Regions from separate parts of the Homo sapiens genome. Here all the other regions are linked to region 1. The links come from fine-mapping of genetic effects on gene expression. A gene starts in region 1. Each other region holds a variant in brackets. All regions are shown on one strand. Distances are from middle to middle. Region 1 holds the start of FOCAD (focadhesin). Region 2 has its middle 270 kb from the start of MIR4473. Region 3 has its middle 30 kb from the start of MLLT3. Region 4 has its middle 24 kb from the start of IFNW1.

The links. PIP is the estimated chance that this variant, and not a neighbour inherited with it, causes the effect. A credible set is the group of variants that fine-mapping cannot tell apart.
Region 2: its variant is the best candidate, but not a certain one, in a credible set for the expression of FOCAD in nasal epithelium (TOPMed, PIP 0.62).
Region 3: its variant is the best candidate, but not a certain one, in a credible set for the expression of FOCAD in whole blood (INTERVAL, PIP 0.83).
Region 4: its variant is the best candidate, but not a certain one, in a credible set for the expression of FOCAD in lymphoblastoid cells (TwinsUK, PIP 0.72).

What each region holds. Positions count from the first base shown.
Region 1 is chr9:20,681,827-20,687,011 of GRCh38, reverse strand. FOCAD (focadhesin) reads right to left here and starts at 2,753. Exons shown (of 44, transcript NM_001375567.1): 1 at 2,719-2,753. FOCAD-AS1 (FOCAD antisense RNA 1) reads left to right here and starts at 2,262. Exons shown (of 2, transcript NR_121601.1): 1 at 2,262-2,444; 2 at 3,471-3,710. RefSeq lists an enhancer at 2,311-3,051 and a silencer at 2,451-3,150.
Region 2 is chr9:20,140,722-20,145,951 of GRCh38, reverse strand. It overlaps a transcript of SLC24A2 not described here. Among named protein-coding and RNA genes, the nearest start is that of MIR4473, 270 kb to the left of the region's middle. The variant C/T (reference allele first, on the strand shown) is at 2,038.
Region 3 is chr9:20,649,988-20,655,217 of GRCh38, reverse strand. No RefSeq gene overlaps it. Among named protein-coding and RNA genes, the nearest start is that of MLLT3, 30 kb to the right of the region's middle. The variant A/G (reference allele first, on the strand shown) is at 2,755.
Region 4 is chr9:21,114,793-21,120,022 of GRCh38, reverse strand. No RefSeq gene overlaps it. Among named protein-coding and RNA genes, the nearest start is that of IFNW1, 24 kb to the left of the region's middle. RefSeq lists an enhancer at 773-1,032. The variant T/C (reference allele first, on the strand shown) is at 2,526.

The DNA of each region.
Region 1 (5,185 bases):
GAAAAAAAAAAAAAACTATGAGGCCAGAAGTACTTAGAGGGTTACAAAAACTACATTTCAATCCATTGTTTGAAAATAGATGGGCTCTTCCACATCACTTAAAACTTTGTTGTTTCAAATCATTTACATGGAGGAAATTCACAAATATCCCTTGTCCTATCAGCTTAGCAAATCTTGTTTCTTATCATGTGGAAATAGTAACAAAACCTCCATCAATCTATTACTAATTGTGAATCACAGACTTATACTCATATAAGTATACCATACTTTATTATACCATGCATCTCTAGATCTATAGATTTCTCATCTCCTAAAGAAATACTTACTACCCACTTGATCAAAATTTAAATTATCACCCTAATTTTCTTTTTGTGCTTAAACCAAGTTCTTTGTTATACATCAAGAAATACTGATTAAGATCAAGATTTGTTATAGACTAATAATCCTTAAACTATTATTTCCTTACACTTCCTCCAAATATAGTTATTATTTCTCATTGTGGTTTTTTCCCGCTAGAAGGTTAATGTCCTCAGCTCTTGAATTTTCCCCATTAACCTTGCAATCTTGATCAGGTCCATTTCTAGAACTGAAAGATGTAACACCAACGCGGAGGGATCACTTGAGGTCAGGATTTCGAGACCAGCCTGGCCAACATGGTGAAACTCCGTCTCTACTAAAAATACAAAAATTAGCTGGGTGTGGTGGCATGCGCCTGTAATCCCAGCTACTTAGGAGGCTGAGGCAGAAGAATCACTTGAACCTGGGAGGCGGAGGTTGCAGTGAGCCGAGATCGCAGCACTGCACTCCAGCCTGGGCGACAGAGTGACCCTGTCTCCAAACAAACAAAAAAATAGCAAATGCAAAATTTTAAGAAGTTATATTTTCTTAAATTTTCCAAACTCCTAATAGTGATATTAACAATTTAATTCAACTAATCACTTGTGGACAATATCCCAAAAGTATCATGAAGCTAAGAATATTATGTCTCAGACTGTTTCATAAATCATTTTAAACGGGGAAAAAGGCCAAACGATTTACCGGTAAGCACCATCAATCAATCAACAAATGAAAAACTCTGGTTATACGTCCATGAAAATTTTGATTTCAAACTATTTATTACAGGGCGCGAGGCTGTGTTCCGCCTCCTCCAGCTCCTCCTGATAACCTTTTGGTTATCAGGCGTCAACTGGAGACAACAATCAGTTAAAATCCAGTAAATTTGGGGTTAATGAAACAAATGTTAAAATAGATATAATATTGATAAACATTAGCCAAGAGATGGTAACTACCTAACATTGATTAAGTAAGCAAATAATCAAGGCAGAGGTTTTAGCTTCCACTAATCTATAAAAGCAAGTGAAAATGCTTTGAAAATTGCATTTTTATGCAATTGTTTCAATATCATACCTTTGTATGTAACATTAAAAAGCTCATGATTACTTCATTTCAAAATTCAGATGAGTCACAGTGCTTTCTACGCAGGAATTGGATGTGAATCAAAATTGTAAACATGCACTTGCTTGGTAGTCAAAAAGTGAATGTGGACAGATACAATGTTCGTTGACACAGTAAAACATAATCATAAAATGCATCCTGTGTTTTTAAAATAGTTACTTCCTGTTAACACAGTTCAGGAAACATGCCATCTACCCTCCTCTCCTGGAAAATCTCAAAATTATACTAATCCCATTCCTCTTCTTACAGATAGGCCACTGAAACCTGGAGTCATTACTGATACAGTTATCAGGATTACACCCTCAGAGCCACGATGGTTTCAGGGATACTAGAACCTGAAAATAACAAAAAAAAAAAAAATTTCCAACTCAAATCTAGACAATAAAACTAACATATAAACTGGAATAAAACGCAGGAAATGCCGATTTTAATACCTGGTATGAGGCTGACCATTAAGGCATCCATCAAAAAAGTTTGGAATGTATGAATGAATGACTGCATGAAATTGGCAGGATTTCATTCATTTCAAAAGCTCCAAATTCAGGAACCACACTGAGATATCAGGACGCCACAGCTGAAACTAAAACTCATGAAGGGTAAATGCAACATAACTGCACGTCTCCACGCGTTAGCTGCTGCGAAAATTTCAAAACATACATCTAACATACTCTTTCTTCAAGTAATTGCCGCAAGTGCGGACGGAGCCAGAGAACTAGGAGACTGAAAACAGGCCCTGCTCACCCATAAGCCTTTGCATTATAAGTGGACATGATCTGAGTGAGTCACCGGGAATGAGAAGGAGACAGTCACCCCAGGCCAGGCAGGACGCGGCCAGAATCTCCTGCTCTGCCCCCAACTAGGGAACCGGTCGAAGGAGAGTGGGACGACTGCAACCTGCTGCAGCTAAGTATGCAAGGATCGCGCCGACCGGCTTCCGAGTCGAGATCCCACTAAGTCCCACCGCAGTCACCACAGCCAGCCCTGCCCAGGTATCTCGGAGCTCCGTAACCTCAGAAGGCCTAGTCCTCCAGAAGCTGAGAGCCCCAGCAGGACCGGACGAGGGCAAAAAGCCCCCTCCCGGCTGCCCCTCGCCGCGACGCGGCCCTGCCGCCACATGCTCCACTGCCCCGTCTCCCAGCTCAGCCCCAGCCCCGCAGGGCCTCAGCCGCCCTCCATGCAAGCCGACCGGGCCGCAGGCGGCGCGACCCGGCGGCTCCCGAGCAGGGGTGCAGCGGTGGCAGCCCGCCGCCCCGCACGGCTTACCTCCCTTCTGCCACAAGCTCAGCCCAGCGCCGGCTGCCTGACGTGGCCCGCCCCGCCGCCTCGAACGCCCGGGGGCGGGGACTGCAGGAGAGAGCCAATGGGCTGCATATCGCGAGGCCCTGTTCCGCCTCCTCCGGCTGGGGCCCGCCCTCCCCGGCTCGCGCGCACGCGCGTCTAAGGCCCGGGCCGCGCACTGCGGTTGAAAGGCGGCGTGGGCGGCGGACCCGCGCTCTGCAGCCGAGCTGGTGCGGGGAGGGCTGCGCGCGGGGGCTGGCTGTGGAGCAGCACCGCAGTGAGGAGTTAGCCCAAGGAAAATCAGATTAAAGGAAACTGCCTAGAGATGCCACTGCAGCGTGCCCGGGTAGTCCTGTTGGCAGCCTGCCCCTATGCAGCTTTTGGCAATACAGAACAGCTTCTTGGTATTTGGAGATTTTGTTTCTCGGGGGAAATAAATAATACTGATAACATTAAGGATTCAGAAAATTTAAAGCAGACAGCCGACTTGCCGCGAAGACGCTTCGTTCTTCGCCTAATAGCTACTTGGTGTCTTTACTTCATTTGGCCAACACATAACACTGCAGCTCTCCACGCCACTGTGGTATATCCACTTGTTAGATAGTCCTGAGGTAGTTCTAGCCCAAGTGTTTCTGCTGATCTAATCTGGGGGGAATTGGCGCGAGTAATTATTCTGTTACGATTTTGCGCAATACTTACTGAATGATAAACATGTATTTTCTCGTGGGGCGGGGCAGGGGCTCCCACGTGAGAAGGCTGTAACAGACAGACAGCAGCCACGATGAAACACGCTGAAAAGAGCCAGCAGAAAAAAACGAGGAGAGACTGGTATGACGGAGTGGAATTCCGGTTGTGGATGACAGAATGGAAATTTTACGCAAGATGAAAGAGTTAAGACAAATTACTCTAAAAATATCTGACTTAGTTGTTTCTAAACCCTGGGGCACCCTTAGGAAAAAATAAAAATAAAAAAACAAGTGCCTGGGCCTCATCACTTGGTTGAAAAAGGTCTGCTGCCAGATCTTGACATTGATATTTTTCTAAGTTTCCAAAGTCATTTTAATGTGTAGACAAGAAGTTCTGTTTCTCATTTGTAGGAAGAATTTGGTTCCCCATCACCTCAGAAAAGTAATTATGTATCACAGACCGTTAACAGTTTTCCCAATAACCAACTATGCATTCACCCTCTAAGAATTTATCTAAATTAATCTTGGGGCCAGGTGGGGGGGCTCACACCTGTAATCCCAGCACTTTGGGAGGCCGAGGAGGGCGGAGTTCAAGACCAGCCTAGGCAACGTGGTGAAACCCCATCTCTACTAAAAAAAACATACAAAAATTAGCCCGGCGTGGGGTTGCGCGCCTGCAGTCACGGCTACTCTACTCAGGAGGCTGAGGCAGGAGAATCGCTTGAACCCGGGAGGCGGAGGTTGCAGTGAGCCGAGGTGGCGCCACTGCACTCCAGCCTCTGATGGAGTGAGACTGTCACAATCAATCATTCAATCAATCAATATTGAACCTACTTAAAGTTATTCAACCTCTGTTATCCTTTGCTTCAAAGGAGTTTTATAAGGCTTATAATTCCCTTTTTATGGACTTTGATGATACTCTCTTTCAGTCTTCCAAATGCACCAGTATTTCTTTTAGGACTATTTTAATATTTTTTCTTCTATTCCTATATTTCTTGAGGCTCATTAGTCAAAATTATAATTAAACACATAACTCTGTAAACAGCGCTGTTCTAAGTATATAAATTTATTTAATCCACAGAACAACTTTATGAGGCAGTTACAGTTATTACCCACATTTTATAAATAAGGAACCTGAAGTACAGCAAGTGAAGCATCTTGACCAAGGTCATGCACCTACCTAATGGCCAGGCCAAAACTTGAATCCAAGCACCCTGGTGCTCAATGAGTAAACGTACTGCCTCTGTTGTAGAAAGCCTGGTTTTAGGAACACACAGGGAAATGCCCATTTAAAGAATGATATTGAGTCTACTTTTGACACCGTCTTATTATGTTCAGGCTGCTATAACAAAGTATCTTAGACTGGGTAATTTATAAACAATAAAAATTTATTGTTCACAGTTCTGCAAGCCGGGAAGTCCAAGCAAGGTGCCAGCAGATTTGGAATATGGTGAGGTTCCATTCCTCATGGATGGTGCCTTCTGTGTATCATCACAGGATAGAAGGGGAAATAGATTACCTGAAGCGTCTTTTATAAGGGCACGACAGGAGTCCTCATAACCTAATCACCTCCCAATGGCCCCACCTCTTAATCCTGTTGCATTGGAGTTTAGGCTTCAACACATTAACTTTGGGGGACACAAACATGTAGGCCACAGCAGACACCTATCCTAGATTCAGATTTTGGGCAGGATTGAGAAACTTGACCATTAAACTTGGAGCCTAGAACCGATTTGACTGCTTTTACTGCAGATCTAGGGTTAAGC
Region 2 (5,230 bases), 540 kb after region 1:
GACTTGACAAGATATACAAAATAAAATGTTAATATAAAACCAAATTATATTATAAAAACAAATTTTATATCTATATATATAGCAGAATCCCATCTTTGTGAAAAAGAAATACATGTATGTATGGCTATTTGTATATGACATATACATATATGCATATACACATATACATATATGTGCTTGTATATCAAATTTAAGCACAGAATAAATCCAGGAAAATAGTGCTTTTATATGTTAACAGTGGTTATCCCTGAGGAAGGGGTAGGATTGTATATGTTGGATGTGACCTGGGACTTTTGCCTCTTCCTGTATATATGTGTAATTGCACACGTGCACACACACACACACACACATACATGTGATGGAATCATAGGAGCAATTTACTTTTTTTTAAAAAAAAGAACTCCTTTCTTTTCTTTCTTTGCCCACCAGTTCCTGAAAATCTTACATTCTTAGGAAAATCACTATAATCGAGAATAAATTACTATTCACTGTTGAGATCGATGACTACTAAAAAAATATAAATTGATCCTATGGGCTTCTAGGAAACTGAGAGATTGCTTCCAAATGCATGGGGGTAAAAGTGGAGAGACAGTGAAGAGATGAAAAAATGTTATATCCCCCATGTTATATCCCCCACTATAACCCTTACTTTTGCAGACCATAAGGCTTGCTTTCATAGAGCAACGAGCCCACTTTTAAATAGTCTTTAATATTGCCCCTGCTGAAGTTATCAAAATGCCTATAAATTCCAGTATTGGGGGCACCTATACTGCAGCTCCCTGACTGCCTCTTGAGTTGGAATTTGCCACAGTTATTCCATATGAAATCCTGAATTCCAATTTTTGGTTCACAAAATACGTTTTCTCTACTCAGGTCTAACTACAGCACTTTGCCTGTAACAATTACTTGATAAGTAGTTGCTGCTCGGTGGATTATCAGGTGCGTTTAAGGAAAATAACATATCTGATGATCATCTTTAAACTCAAAAGTCTATTATCCTTCTTTGGAAGGACAGGATTATTGCTTGAGGCCTCTTCAAGCCATCTAATCAAGAATAGAAAACTATCAGAATGAAATGAACTAGCACCACTGAAGTTTTCTTTTTTTTTTAAACTAACATTTCCAAAGAGCATTTACAGAGTGTTTTATGAATGAATGCAGAATATAGCACCGAACGAGGCAAACCTTTCTTATGAGGACAGCCGTATAGTTAAATCCAAGCATGCAAGATTGAATGACCCCGATTGACAACCCTTGCCCTCTGTTACAAACAAATGGGACCAGGAATGTGGTCCCCCCACAGTGCACTGGGGGATGCCTGCACCCACTACCCTCTGCCATCCATCTCCTCCTCCTCTGATTTGTGTGTGTTTTTGTTAAACAGTGGATCTTGCTATGCTTTTCAGAAAGCTGACAAGAAGCAAGCTGAAAATTAAAAATGGGTGCCGAGAGGCTTTACGGGAGTCTAAATAAACAGCCCGACAGGAAAGACGTGTGGCAGGCTAAGGTTTCAGGCTAGTGGTCGGAGCGAGCTAACAGACATCCGTATAACAGAAGGCTGTGTTTGTTTTCCCTGTCCCTGCTCTAGCAAATTTATTGGGTTATCTGTCTTATTTTGACACTTGGGTGTTTAAGGTTTCTGTTTTAGGTGTCTAAAGACATAAAAAAATTATTGTACAGTTTACATTCCTGGCAGAAGCTTTGACATGTGCTAGCTGAAAAGTTCCTATCTGCCAGTGATTTCACAGAAAAAGCCTCAGAGAGTTGGGTTTTCATAGAGGGTCCAAGAATCCTCTGTGAAAAGCACCAAGAACAAAGGGTTTCTTCTTTTATTTCTGTCCTTATCTTCCTATTGTCTAGTGAAGAGTGGCCACCAAGCCATTTGCTTCCCGTTGTACTGGATTTTTACTTACCATGTAACATATAGGAAACCTTACCCCTGTCTTGTAGAGGAAGAGATTATTTCCATCAGTGGAGCTTGCACTCAACATAGATCAACAAGATACAGTTTGATTTGCTGTAGAGGTCAGGAAGGCA[C/T]GGCAGTGTTGAGTGAATTCTAGATGTTATGATAACGCACCATCAAAATATTAGAGTCATATGTGTATAAATATTGACATTTTGATGATGGATGTACTAAACCACCCACAAGCAATGTTAATATATTTCTTCTTTTCAGAATACCAATTTGGAAATAATTTTACTTATAAATGTATACCTGCCTTGTTTCTCAAAGGTTTTGTGGCTGCAGTAACTAATTAAGGAGTGGTAGGGAATTTAAATAGCTCTCTGACATAAACCTATTTTCATTCATTCATTCAAATGGCATTCAATAAACACTCATGTATTTAATTGTTAGGAAGCAGAAACAGACATGGGAGAAAAGTATAAAACACAGTCTGTGGCTCCAATGGAAGCTTATAGTTTTTTCTCTCATCATCTTTTGCAGTAGACAAACTGCCTGGCATAGTCTGGTCGAATTTTCATGATACCAGGTGATCAGCACTAAGTCAAGGCAGGAAAAACAGTCTATTTTTTTCCCTAGGGCAAATAGCTTTGCAGCAGCTGAGGCAATTTGAGCATATTACTTTTTGTTTCTTTGTTCAGTTTTCCTTTTCTTCTGTATCTTTTTCTCCTCTTTTCTCTATGGCCCAAGATTGGGAGTTGGCAGCTGGTAGCTATAATTTCTCTGCCTCACAATGCTCTTGGCAAAGGCTCATCATTCCAGCCACTGGACAAATAGTTTTCTCTTCTTGGGCACTCTCTTTTCCCACCTGCTGCATTTGCATGTCACTTCCACTCACCTCACTATTGGTAAAGGCTGCCATTTTGTGCAAAAATCACAGATTTTTAGAATCAGCAGACCTACATTTGAATGCAGACTCTGTCACTTCATTGGTGGGTGACTCTGAGCCTCAGTTTATAATTGGTAAAAATGTGTATAGTCATATCTGTTTCACAGAAAGCTTACATGTGATCATGCATTGAATGGAGCGAGCATGGCCCCTGGCTCCAGCAGATGACCTCCTTCCTTCTTCAGGTCGTATAAGACATGGAAAGGCCGGGCACGGTGGTTCATGCCTGTAATCCCAGCACTTTGGGAAGCCAAGGTGGGTGGATAACTTGAGGTCAGGAGTTCGAGACCAGCCTGACCAACACGGTGAAACCCCGTCTCTACAAAAAATACAAAAATTAGCTGGGCGTGGTGGCAGGTGCCTGTCATCCCAGCTCCTTGGGAGGCTGAGGCAGGAGAATCTCTTGAACCCAGGGGTGGAGGCTGCAGTGAGCTGAGATTGTGCCACTGCACTTCATCCCAGGCTGCAGAGTGAGACTCCATGTCAAAAAAATAAAAACAAAATAAAAATAAAAATTAAAAAAGACATGGAGAAATGAGGCATTTGAGAGAGCCAAAGAAAATAGTTGTGTCGTAGAAACTTTATCGTTCATTGCTTTCCTGTTCATTTCAGACAAACGTAGTGTAAATTAATTTTTTAAAAAACAAAAATATTTAAGTGACCTTGCAGTCTGGTTTATAATGGATATATATTAATACTATGTCCATGTCTGAAAACAGGCTTTGGGAGGCAAATAAAAAATACGTAACACAAATTTTATTTGCTAGTAGCTTAGGAACAACTTGAAGAGACATTTGTACAATAAAAAGTCAAATATTAATAAAAGTAAGTACTTCATGGGTGTTACTAATCAATCGGTAATTATTGAGCAGGTAAGTATTCTTTCCTGCAGAACTCTTCGAAGAGCCTTTAATCTGTTAACATACAGTAAGAATCTCTAAAAAGGGAAATAGTAAGCAAAGTCTTCTACACCTATTTCATCATCGAACTCTTTAAATAATAATAATTATTATTATTTCAGTAGAGTCTCATTCTGTCATCCAGGCTGGAGTGCAGTGGTGTAATTTTGGCCCACTGCAACCTCTGCCTCCCAGGTTCCAATAGTTCTCCTGCCTCAGCCTCCCAGTTAGCTGGGATTATACGCACCTGCCACTACACTGAGCTAATTTTCGTGTTTTGAGTAGAGATGGGGTTTTGCCATGTTGGCGAGGCTGGTCTTGAACTCCTGAGCTCAAGTGATTCACCTGCCTTGGCCTCTCAAATGCTGGGATTACAGGCGTGAGCCACCGTGGCCCGCCTTTTTAAATTATTTTAATCTTATCTTTATAGCGTATTAGGTGCAGAAAGAGAGGTTGGGGTGATGGAAGGGCTTGAGTGAGCATAAGGACGCTACCCTGCAGTAGCGTCGTTTCTAGAAAGGGCAGCATCATGATTCAAGTATCAAAGAGATGTCTTAGAAAGGGTGTGTGGTGGTGATATACTAGATCATGAGGCAGGGCTTTCTCAAGTATTATAGAATGATCAGAATATCAGCCAGATGACAGTTAATTAAGGAGATGTTAGGCTGTGACATACCGTCAGCTGGTAGCAGAAGACTCTTCACAGTCATTTCAGAAGTGAAATATGAGACCAAGCCAAGAGAGTTGTAGCTCAAGAGGGATTATTCGGGATAGGAGAATTAGAGGCTTGATAGATTTTAAGGGTAAAACCACAACAATGAGACGACCACAAATGGTCTTGGAGTAAGGGGGGCTAACTGCAGGATCAAGTCCCTACACAGAGTAGAGAGAAATAAGACAGCGAGCGTAGGCCGGGGAAGCTGCTGAGACATGGAAGAGATAGAGGAAAGACAGCTGTCTTGCCTCTATCTCTTACCAGGTGAGCCTCATCAAGTGCTGTATTCATTCTTAATTATACCAGCTGTCCTGTGGCATAGAAATGGTGGTTTTCAATTTGTAGACATGGAAACTTGCCCAAGCTTACACAGCCACTACATGGTGGGCGGATCAGGCATTTGAACCCTGGTTTTGCTGCTCCCAAAGCCATAAAATATAAGTGATGATACAGAAATCTTCTGAGGAGGAGAGGAGAGATGATAAAGGAGCTCATGGTTAGTAGCCTCAGTTTTTCAGGAGGCGAGACAAGGAGATTGATTTGAGTGGTGGTTGAATTGGAGGTGAGGGAAAGCAGGTGAGCGGTAGAGGAAAGAGTTTGGAATTTTCAATTTTGGAAAGGCAGGACTTTCGTTTCTAAGGCAATGGAGACATATTTGCAAGTTAGCAGCAGACTCACACAGTATAAATACAATAATCATAATGTATTGTCCAAACCAGGATCCTTTTGAGAGAAGTGGGGGGTTGTGGGTGGATAACATCAAG
Region 3 (5,230 bases), 32 kb after region 1:
CACATGAATGCTAAGAAAGCAAAACAGCCTCGTTCCTGATACGGAGAAAGTTTTGGCGGTCAGGATATAAAATCAAACCAGCCACAGCATTCTCTAAAGCCAAAACCTAATCCAGAGCAAGGCTCTAACTCTCTTCAATTCTATGAAGGCTGAGACACATGAGGAAGGTGCAGAAGAAAATTTAGAAGCTAGCAGATTGGTTCATGAAGTTTAAAGAAGGAAGTCATCTTCAAAACATAAAAGTGCAAAGTGAAGCTGCAAGTGCTGATGTAAAAGTTGCAGCAAATTATCCAGATCTAGCTGAGATCACTGATGAAGGAGGAACACTAAACAACATATTTTCAGTGTAGATGAAACACCTTTCCATTGAAAGAATATGCCATCTAGAAATTTTATAGCTAAAGAGGAGAAGTCAGTGCCTTGCTTCAAAGCTTCAAAAGACAGGTTGACCCTCTTGTTAGGGGCTGATGGCTTTCATTTGAAACCAATGCATACTTACTATTCTGAAAATTTTAGGGCCCTTAAAAATGATGCTAAATCCATTCTGCCACTGTTTTATAAGTGAAATCACAAAGCCTGAATGACAGCACTTCTGTTTATAGCATGGTTTACCGAATATTTTAAGCCCCGTGTAAAGACTTACTGCTCAGGAAAAAAAAAAAAAAAAAGATTCCTTTCATCCTCACTGACAATGTACCTGGTTACACAAGAGCTGTGATGGAGATGTACAAGGAGATGAATGTTACTATTATGCCTGCTAACACGACATCTATTCCGCAGCCCACGGATCAAGAAGTAATTTCAGTTTTCAACTCTTTTATTATTACTATCGTTATTGTAAAGCTACAGCTGCCATAGATAGTAATTTGTCTGGTGGATCTCGGCAAAGTAAATTGAAAACCTTCTGGAAGGGGTTAACCATTATATATGCCATTAAGAACATTTGTGACTCATGGGAAGAGGTCAAAATATCAACATGAACAATTTAGAAAAAGTTGATTCCAACCTTCATGGGTGACTTTGAGGGGTTCAAGATTTCAGTAGAGGAAATCACTGCAGATGTGGCAGAAATAGCAAGATAACTATAATTAGAAGTGGAGCCTAGGGTCGGGTGGCTCACACCTGTAATCCCAGCACTTCGGGAGGCCGAGGTGGGCGGATCACGAGGTCAGGAGATCTAGACCATCCTGGCTAACACGGTGAAACCCCGTCTCTACTAAAAATACAAAAAATTATCCGGGCGTGATGGCACACGCCTGTAGTTCCAGCTACTCAGCAGGCTGAGGCAGGAGAATCGCTTGAACCCAGGAGGCGGAGGTTACAGTGAGCCGAGATCTTGCCACTGCACTCCAGCCTGGGCGACAGAGTGAGATTATGTCTCAAAAAAAAAAAAAAAAAAAAGAAAGTGGAGCCTAAAGATGACTGAACTGCTGTAATCTCATGATAGAACTGGAATAGATGAGGAGTTGCTTCTTATGGATGAGCAAAGAAAGCAGGGTTTGAGAGGATTGGCCCCAATTTCTAAAGAAGTTCTGCTGTGGGTAAAATGCTATCAAACAGCATCACATGCTACAGAGAAATCTTTTGCAAAAGAAAGAGTTAATTGATGCAGCAAACTTCATTGTTGTCTTGTTTTCAGATATTTCTGCAGCCACCCCAACCTTCAGCAACCACCACCCGGATCAGTCAGCAGCCATCAACGTTGAGGCAAGACCCTCCTCCAGCAAAAAGATTACAACTCAATGAAGACTCAGATGATTATTAGCATTTTTATTAGTAATATATTAATAAATATTGTGTTTTATTAATAGCAATAAAGTGTTTTTAATTAAGGTAAGTACTTTTTTTTAGACATAATACTGTTACAAACTCAATAGACTCCAGTATAATGTAAATATAACTTTTACATGCACTGGGAAAAAAAATTCTTGTAACTTGTTTTATTCTGATATTTATTGCAGTGATCTGGAACTGAACCTGTAATATGTCCAAGGTATGCTTCTAATCAGCCAAAATGATAAACCATCAGATTGAAAAAACTTCCAGAGTTAATATATTAAAAGGTAATAATGAATGAGAAATAATACTGTACCTTAGTAATCTTAACTCTTTTCTCTGTATACTTTTGTTTCTCAGCTAATGGTTCTATACTAGGGCACTGCAAAGTTAAAGGATTTTCTGAATACCAGAATTTTACTACTAATAGAGCCATTCTAGAATCTGGCCCTATCCATATTTTAGCCCATTGGCACATGATTTATCCATCTCTCTGTAATAATTTATCAATGCTATTACTAACAAATAGATTAGTAAAGGTTCTTGAAAGAACATAAGAAATATATAGTTCTTCTTTCACCCCACCAATAGTAATAATAACTGAATATAAAATGGTGAATTGTAATATAATTATATTTTATATATAATTATAAAAATAATTATATTTTATATATAATTATAAAAATAATTATATTTTATATATAATTATAAAAATAATTATATATATAATATTATATATTTTATATAAATATATATTATATATATAAAATATTATAATTATAACATAATTATAATATAATAATGGTGAATATAAAATATAACATGGCCATGTGCAATGATTCATGCCTGTAATCCCAAAAGTTTGGAAAGTCAAGGTGGGAGGATAGCTTGAAGCCGGGATTACACGATGAGCCTGGGCAACACAGTGAGATCTTCACATCTACAAAAAATAATAATTAAAAAAAATTATCTGGGTAT[A/G]GTCCTATCTACTCCAGGCTGAGATGGGAGGATCACTTGAGCCCAGGAGTTCAAGGTTGCAGTGAGCTGGAATCATGCTACTGCACTCCAGCTTGGGAAACAGAGCAAGATCCTATCTTAAAAAAAAAATGGAGAGAGGTATGCCAAATGGATCATAACTAGTATATGTAAAATGGTGGTGAACAGGGCCTAGATGTATCTTTTATATATTCTTGGACCCCATAGCTGAAAACAGATGCAATATATTAAGTCAGTAAACTGCCGGCTGTAGCACCAGACACTTACATACAAGGTTTGACTAATCTTGGTCATCTGTTCAGGGAAGTACAGAACTGTGGTGTAACCATGTCTTCCCGTTTTTATCTCTTCAATGGGGGAGAGGTGGGATAGATGTGTCAGGCCAGATGCTGCTGGAACAAGAAGACAAGTGTCAGAGGGAGAGGGAGGCAGAGCTGAGACCAAGCGTGTCAGAGGGGTCGCCTGCTTTCCTGCCATTTGAAAACTCATTTCCTAAAGGACAGTTACACTGTGCAATGTAATAATATTTTATCACTAAAAAGACAAGGCAGCTCTACACTTACCAGTATGGAACAGGCTCCAAGTCATATTAAGTTGGGGAAGGGTAATGGGTGGAGAACAAAATGTAGTACAATGTATGTAATATGCTATCATATGTGTATATAATTAAATATATATTTATGTATGTATATGCTTACATACACGTAGAACATGTTTGGAAGAATATTGAAAATTTGGGAGCTGGGTATGGTGGCTCATGCCTGTAGTCCCAGTTACTCAGGAAGCTGAGGTAGGAGGATTGTTTAAGCCCAGGAGTTTGAGACCACCCTGGACAACATAGTGAAAGAAACCTCATCTCCATTATAAATAAAATAAATAAAATAAAATAAAATAAAATAAAACTTGCAAACCTTGGGGGAGGCAAACAACGTAGGGCTTCCATGTAAGGCCACACATGATGGAATTACAACCTTCCAGAGGCATCAATTACATAGGCTCTTGCTACTCAAAGGTGTGGTCTCCAGACCAGCAGCATCAGCATTACCTGAGAGTTTTTTGGAAATGCAGAATCTCAGCTTCTATCCCAGACTTACTGAATCATAATCTACCTTTAAAGAGGACTCTCAATTATTTTTTAATTGCATCAAATGTTGAGAAATACTGTTATAAATGCAAAGTGTATCGAGCCTTCTAGAGTTGTGCACTGCATAACCTTCATAACCAAGAGTAAAGGAAAGATCTGTGAGTAAAGGATGGGAAGAAGTCTCTTCACCATAGAGGCTTTTTTTTGTTTATTTTTTTGAGATGGAGTCTCGCTCTACTGCCCAGGCTGGAGTACAGTGGCACAATCCAGGCTCACTGCAAACTCCACCTCCCAGGTTCAAGTGATTCTCTTGCCTCAGCCTCCTGGGTAGCTGGGATTACAGGCATGTGCCAAAACACCTGGCTAATTTATAGAGCCTTTTTGCACTTTGTACATGTTGAGTCATGTGGTACAAAAAGAATTGTAAATATTGTAAGATAAACTAAAGCAAACAGCACTTTACAGCCTAAAGGGGATGACTTTAATAATTGAGAGTAGGCCAGGCACGGTGGCTCCCACCTGTAATTCCAATATTTTGGGTGGCCTAGACGTGAGGATAGTTTGAGGCCAGGAGTTCAAGACCAGCCTGGGCAACATGGCAAAGCTCCATCTCTACAAAAAATACAAAAATCAGCTGGGTGTGGTGGCACGTGTCTATACTCTCAGCTACTCAGGTTGAGGTGGGGAGCTGCGGGATGGTCAATGGGGGCTTAGGCAGGCGGATCACTTGAGCCTGGGAGATTGAGGCTGCAGTGAGCTACAGTTGTGCCACTGCACTCCAACCTGGGTGACAGAGTGACAGCCTGTCTCAAATAAATAAATAAATAAATAAATAAATAAATAAATAAATAAATAAATATTTGAGAGTAACTAATCATTATGGGATAAGACATTGATGAGGAAAGCCAGTCAATGACAAAGAGCATTTCAACTGAGCACAGTGGTGGTAGTTTTTGGAAGCCATAGAACTGTTTCATGCTTATATCTCAAAGAGATATTGGTTACATCGGGACATTAGTTTAACAACTTTTGAAGATAACTAAGTCTGGTATTGGAAAATCCACGTTATGTGTTTGAGTTCCCAAATGGGAGACTAATGCCTTAAGTGTGACTTCTGTTCTACCTCCCAGTCCTCCCACTTTCTGCCCTCCAGGACTTTTGTACTGTGCTGCCATTTATGAGGTAGCACCAAGCTCATATTTTGCTTCAGACAAAATCATTATTTAGGTTGCAGCCTTAGAGTTATTTTATCATTTCTATAATAAGCAAATAACTGCTGTATAAATGAGAAAATGGGGTAATGTTTTAAAATTTAATTATATTTACACTTTAGAATTATATACATTCACATGAAACAGAAAGTGTAAAAGGGGT
Region 4 (5,230 bases), 430 kb before region 1:
GCTTCCTCACTCAGTCTATTAGCATTAGATCATGCCCTTTTTATCCAGTCATTTTTCTACATAGCTGTCCAATTCTTCATTAACCTAAGCATAGAAATGGTGTCTTTGGCCCTTCAATCTGAAGGCTCCCATGACACATAAAACTATGATAAAATTAATTTGTATGCCTTTTCACCTATTAATCTATCTGCCTTTTGTCAATTGATTTTCACGGAACCTTCAGAGGTCAAAGGGCAAGATTTCCCCTGGCCCCTACAGCTGCCCACCCAACATCTTCTACCAGGTGCTACCTGGACTCCCTCTGCGAGAAACTCCACATTGGCTCTATCCAATACAGACTTCAGTGAGCCTCCAGCCTGGGTTTACTTTTCTCTTTCGGTATCAAGCACTTGTCTGAGCTGGACGTATTTAATCCTCACAACCACTCTCAGGCATAAATGCAGCCAGGCCTAGAGTTAAGAAGAGAATACACAGACAACACACAGCAGCTGCTGAATAAGCACCAGCTCCATTCCCTCCACAAACAGGTGAACATGTCTATTATCGGTTTTCTGCAGGAGCTTCCTGTCTCTGAAGCAGTTTCTGGCACTTCTTTAAAGTTAAACCAAAAACCCTTCATACCATTAAAACTTACAACTAAATGCAGTTTTATTTCATCATAGATAAACAGGGACTGTACAATGACTGCACAGGGACTGTACAGTGAACCGGATGGTGCAAAAATAACAATAAGAATGATGCAACAAGTGAAAAGGGAACTAAATGTGAGTTGACAAATTGGATTTGAAGAATGGAGCGGGGATTCCTCTCTTGCCTGGCACGTGCCTGAGGAGAGTGCAGCTTATCTTCACAGAGCACAGGATCCTTTTTCTGGCTTCCTGAAAGATGCCTGTGTTATTCTGGTGAAAGCTTTTAGCTCCTCAAATGGTAGACAGAACCAAGAAACCAGGAAAGTAAAGTGTGCCATTGTAGACAGCTGGTGTGTGTGTGCCAGGTAGCAGTGCTTCTGTCTATACCCTGGGATCTTTGCTGCAACATGCTTGCTTCAGTCACCAAGTGAATGGCTATTTCTGCCTCTCCATTGTGAGTAGTTGAGCTGGCATTAAAATGTTCCCTGGCCAGTTTTCTTGAAATTAACTCACTTTCCTGCAGAACTAGCACATTAGGGAATAATCCTCCAATCAGTTTCAAATAGGAGAGCTAACGTTTAAGTACCCTTAGTTAAGTGCCAGGAATCATTCTGAGTGTGTTATATAAATTAAACAATTAATCCTTGCCACAATTTTACGAGGTAGGACTATGGTTATCTTAATTTTACAGGTAAAGGAACTGGGCACACAGAGTTCTATTTCCTTTTCCTGTGTTAAGACATCCAAAAATAGTATTCTGCTCCTTGAAATAAAAAATATGATATGGAATATGAAAGGAAAATCTTCAGGGAAATAGCATAAATAAAAAACAATCACAACTTCTGGAAATCAAGGACACACTTAGAGAAATGCAGTTTTAGCAATAGAATTGAACAAGCAACAGAAAGAACTTCAGAGCTCTAAGACAAGGTTTTTGAAGTAACCCAATCCAACTAAGGCAAATAAATAAGAATTTTAAAAAAGAACAAAGTTTCCAAGAAGTTTGGTATTATGTTAAATGACCAAACCTTAGAATAATTGGTGTTCTTGAGGAAGAAGAGAAATCTAAAAGTTTGGAAAACATATTTGAAAATACAGTTGAGGAAAACTTCCCTGACCTTGGTAGAAACCTAGACATCCAAATACAAGAAGCTCAAAGAACACCTGACAAATTCATCTCAAAAAGATCATCATCTAGGCTCATAGTCACCAGGTTATCTAAAGTCAAGATGAAGAAAGAAGCTTAAGAGCTGTGAGGCAAAAGCATCAAGTAACCTGTAAAGAAGAAACCTATGAGAGTAACGACAGATTTCCCAGCAGAAACTCTACAAGCTAGAAGGGATTGGGGTCATATTTTAAGCCTCCTTAAAAAAAAAACAACTATCAGCCAAGAATTTTGTATCCACCAAAACTAAACTTCATCAATGAAGGAAAGATAGTCTTTTCCACATAAACAAATGCTGAGAGAATTCACCACTACTAAGCCAGCACTACAAGATCTGCTAAAAAGAGCTCTAAATCTTGAAACAAATCCTTGAAACACCAAGCTAAAACCTCCTTAAAGCATAAATCTCACAGGAACTATATAACAGTAACACAATGAAAAAAAAAGGTATTTAAGCGACAAACAGGCTGATGAATAGAATAGTCCCTTACACCTCAGTACTAATATTAGAATGGCAAAATGGATAGGAATTCACCAATCAAGTTTCTGCTGTCTTCAGGAGATTCACCTAACACATAAGGACTCACATAAACTTCAGGTAAAGGGGTGGAAAAAGATATTCCGTGCAAATAGACACCAAAAGTGAGCAGAAGTAGCTATTCTTACATCACACAAAACAAGCTTTAAAGCAACAGCAGATAAAAAAGACAAAAAGGGAAATTATATAATGG[T/C]AAAAAGACTAGTCCAACAGGAAAATATCAGAATCCTAAATATATATGCACCTAAAACTAGAGTTCCCAAATTTATAAAACAATTACTACTAGACCTAAGAAATGAGATAAATGACAACACAATAATAGTGGGGGACTTTAATACTCCACTGACAGCACAAGACAGGTCACCAAGACAGAAAGTCAACAAAGAAAAAATGGACTTAAACTATAGCCTAGAATAAATGGACTTAACAGATATTTATAGAATACAGGATAGAATGCTATCCAACAACTGCAGAATATACATTCTTTTCATCAGCACATGGAACATTCTCCAAGATAGACCATATGATAAGTCATAAAACAAGTCTCAGTAAATTTAAGAAAATTGAGATTACATCAAGTACTCTATCGGACCATAGTGGAATAAAATTAGAAATCAACAGCAAAAGGTACCCTCAAAACCATGCAAATACATGCAAATTAAATAACCTGCTCCTGTATTATCATTGGGACAACCATGAAATCAAGATGGAAATTTAAAAATTTTTTGAACTGAATGATAATAGTGACACAACCTATCAAAACTTCCGGGATACAGCAAAAGTGGTGCTAAGAGGAAAGTTCGTAGCATTAAATGCCTACATCAAAATGTCTGAAAGAGCACAAATAGACAATCTAAGGTCACACCTCATGGAACTGGAGAAACAAGAACAATCCAAACCCAAACCCAGCAGAAGAAAAGAAATAACAAAGACCAGAGGAGAACTAAATGAAATTGAAACAAAAAAATACAATAGATAAATGAAACAAAAGGCTAGTTCTTCGAAAAGATAAATAAAATTTATGGACCATTAGTTAGATTAACCAAGAAAAGAAGAGAGAACACCCAAATAAGCTCAATTAGAAATGAAATGTGAGATATGGCTACTGATTCCACAGAAATACAAAAGATTATTCAAGGCTACTATGAACACCTTTATGTGCATAAACTAGAAAACATAGGAAATCGATAAATTCCTGGAAATACACAACCCTCCTAGATTAAACGAGGAAGATATAGCAACCCTGAACAGACCAATAACAAGCAGTAAGATTGAAGTGGTAATCTAAAAATTGCCAACAAAAAAAGTCCAGGACCGCACACATTAACAGCTGAATTCTATCAGACATTCAAAAAAGAATTTATACCAATCCTATTGACACTATTCCAATCAATACTTTTTGTTTTAATACAGAAGCTTAAGCAATTTATATTTATTATTTTCACCATTATGTGCTCAGTTCTCAACTTTGGTTTCTGCTTTACTTTTTATGTTACTTATATATGTTTTTGATGTTTTAACTGCATTCAATTCTCCAATTATTATTAATTTTAAAACAATTCCTTTTTTAAAAGAAATTTAAATTTTCTCTTAATTTTTTATTTAAAATTTTTCATAATACTTTTAACTGATTTTACTCTTCACTGCCAGTTCTAACTAGGACTGTCACATTTTTAGTCAGCATAGTTTGTGTAACAGATATGATATTGGTAGACGTGCGTGTTAATTTATGTTCATATATAAATTGATAAGAATGACCAAGAAGTTAGTGAATAAAAAATTATTCCTGAATTTATGAAATAAAAATGCATTAATCTGAATGTTATTTGGAAGCAATACAATAGATTAGTGCCACTTATCCAAATATATTCAAGAGAAATTTTTTTAAGGTAAAGCTTATGACACCATACTCATTATTGCCATGTTCATATTTTCTATTTCTCATGATTCAGTCTTGGTAGACAGTATGCTTCTAAGAATTTCTGTATTTCTTCTATGTTATTCAACTTGTTGGTATATAATTGTTCATAGTAGCCTCTTATGATCCTTCATATTTCTAAAATATCAGTTGTTATGTCTCTTTTTTATTTATAATTTTAGTTGAATCTTCTCTCTCTCCCCCACCCCCCACCTTTTTTTCAGTTAGTCTAGCTACACATTTGTCAATTTTGTTTATCTTTTCAAAAACCACTCTTAGTTTTGTTGATTTTTTAAAATTTTTCTTTTTATTCTCTCATTTGATTCTGCTCTGTTTAATATTTCCTTTCTTCTGCTAACATTGGGCTTTGTTTTCTTTTTCTAGTTACTTGAGGTGAAAAGTGGTTTATCTGAAATCTTTCTTTCCTTCTTATGTACACATGTATCACTAGAAACCTCCCTCTTAGAACTGCTTTTGCTGCATTCCTTAAATTTTGCAATGTCGTGTTTCTGTTTTTGCTTCAAAATACTTCTTGACTTCTTTTTTAACCTCTTGGTTATTCAGGAGTATGTTGTGTATATATATTATCATATATAATACATTATATTATATATGATAATATATATAATTTAATATATATAATATATACAATTTGTAAATTTTCCAATTTTCCTCCTGTTAATTTATTTTTATTTTTTATTATAGTCAGAAAAGATACTTGATATGATTTCAATCTTTTAAATTTGCTTCTTCATTGGTTTACTGTAAACCATTCAAAATGATCCATCCTTTGTTGAAAATGGGGTATTGAAGTCTCCTATTATGATCATATTGCTGCCTATTTCTCCATTCAGATCTGTTAATATTTGCTTTGTATATTTTGGTGTTCTGATGTTGAGTACATATATATTTATAATTGTTGTATTCTCTTGATGAAATTATCCCTTTAACATTATATAATGACCTTCTTGTTATAGTTT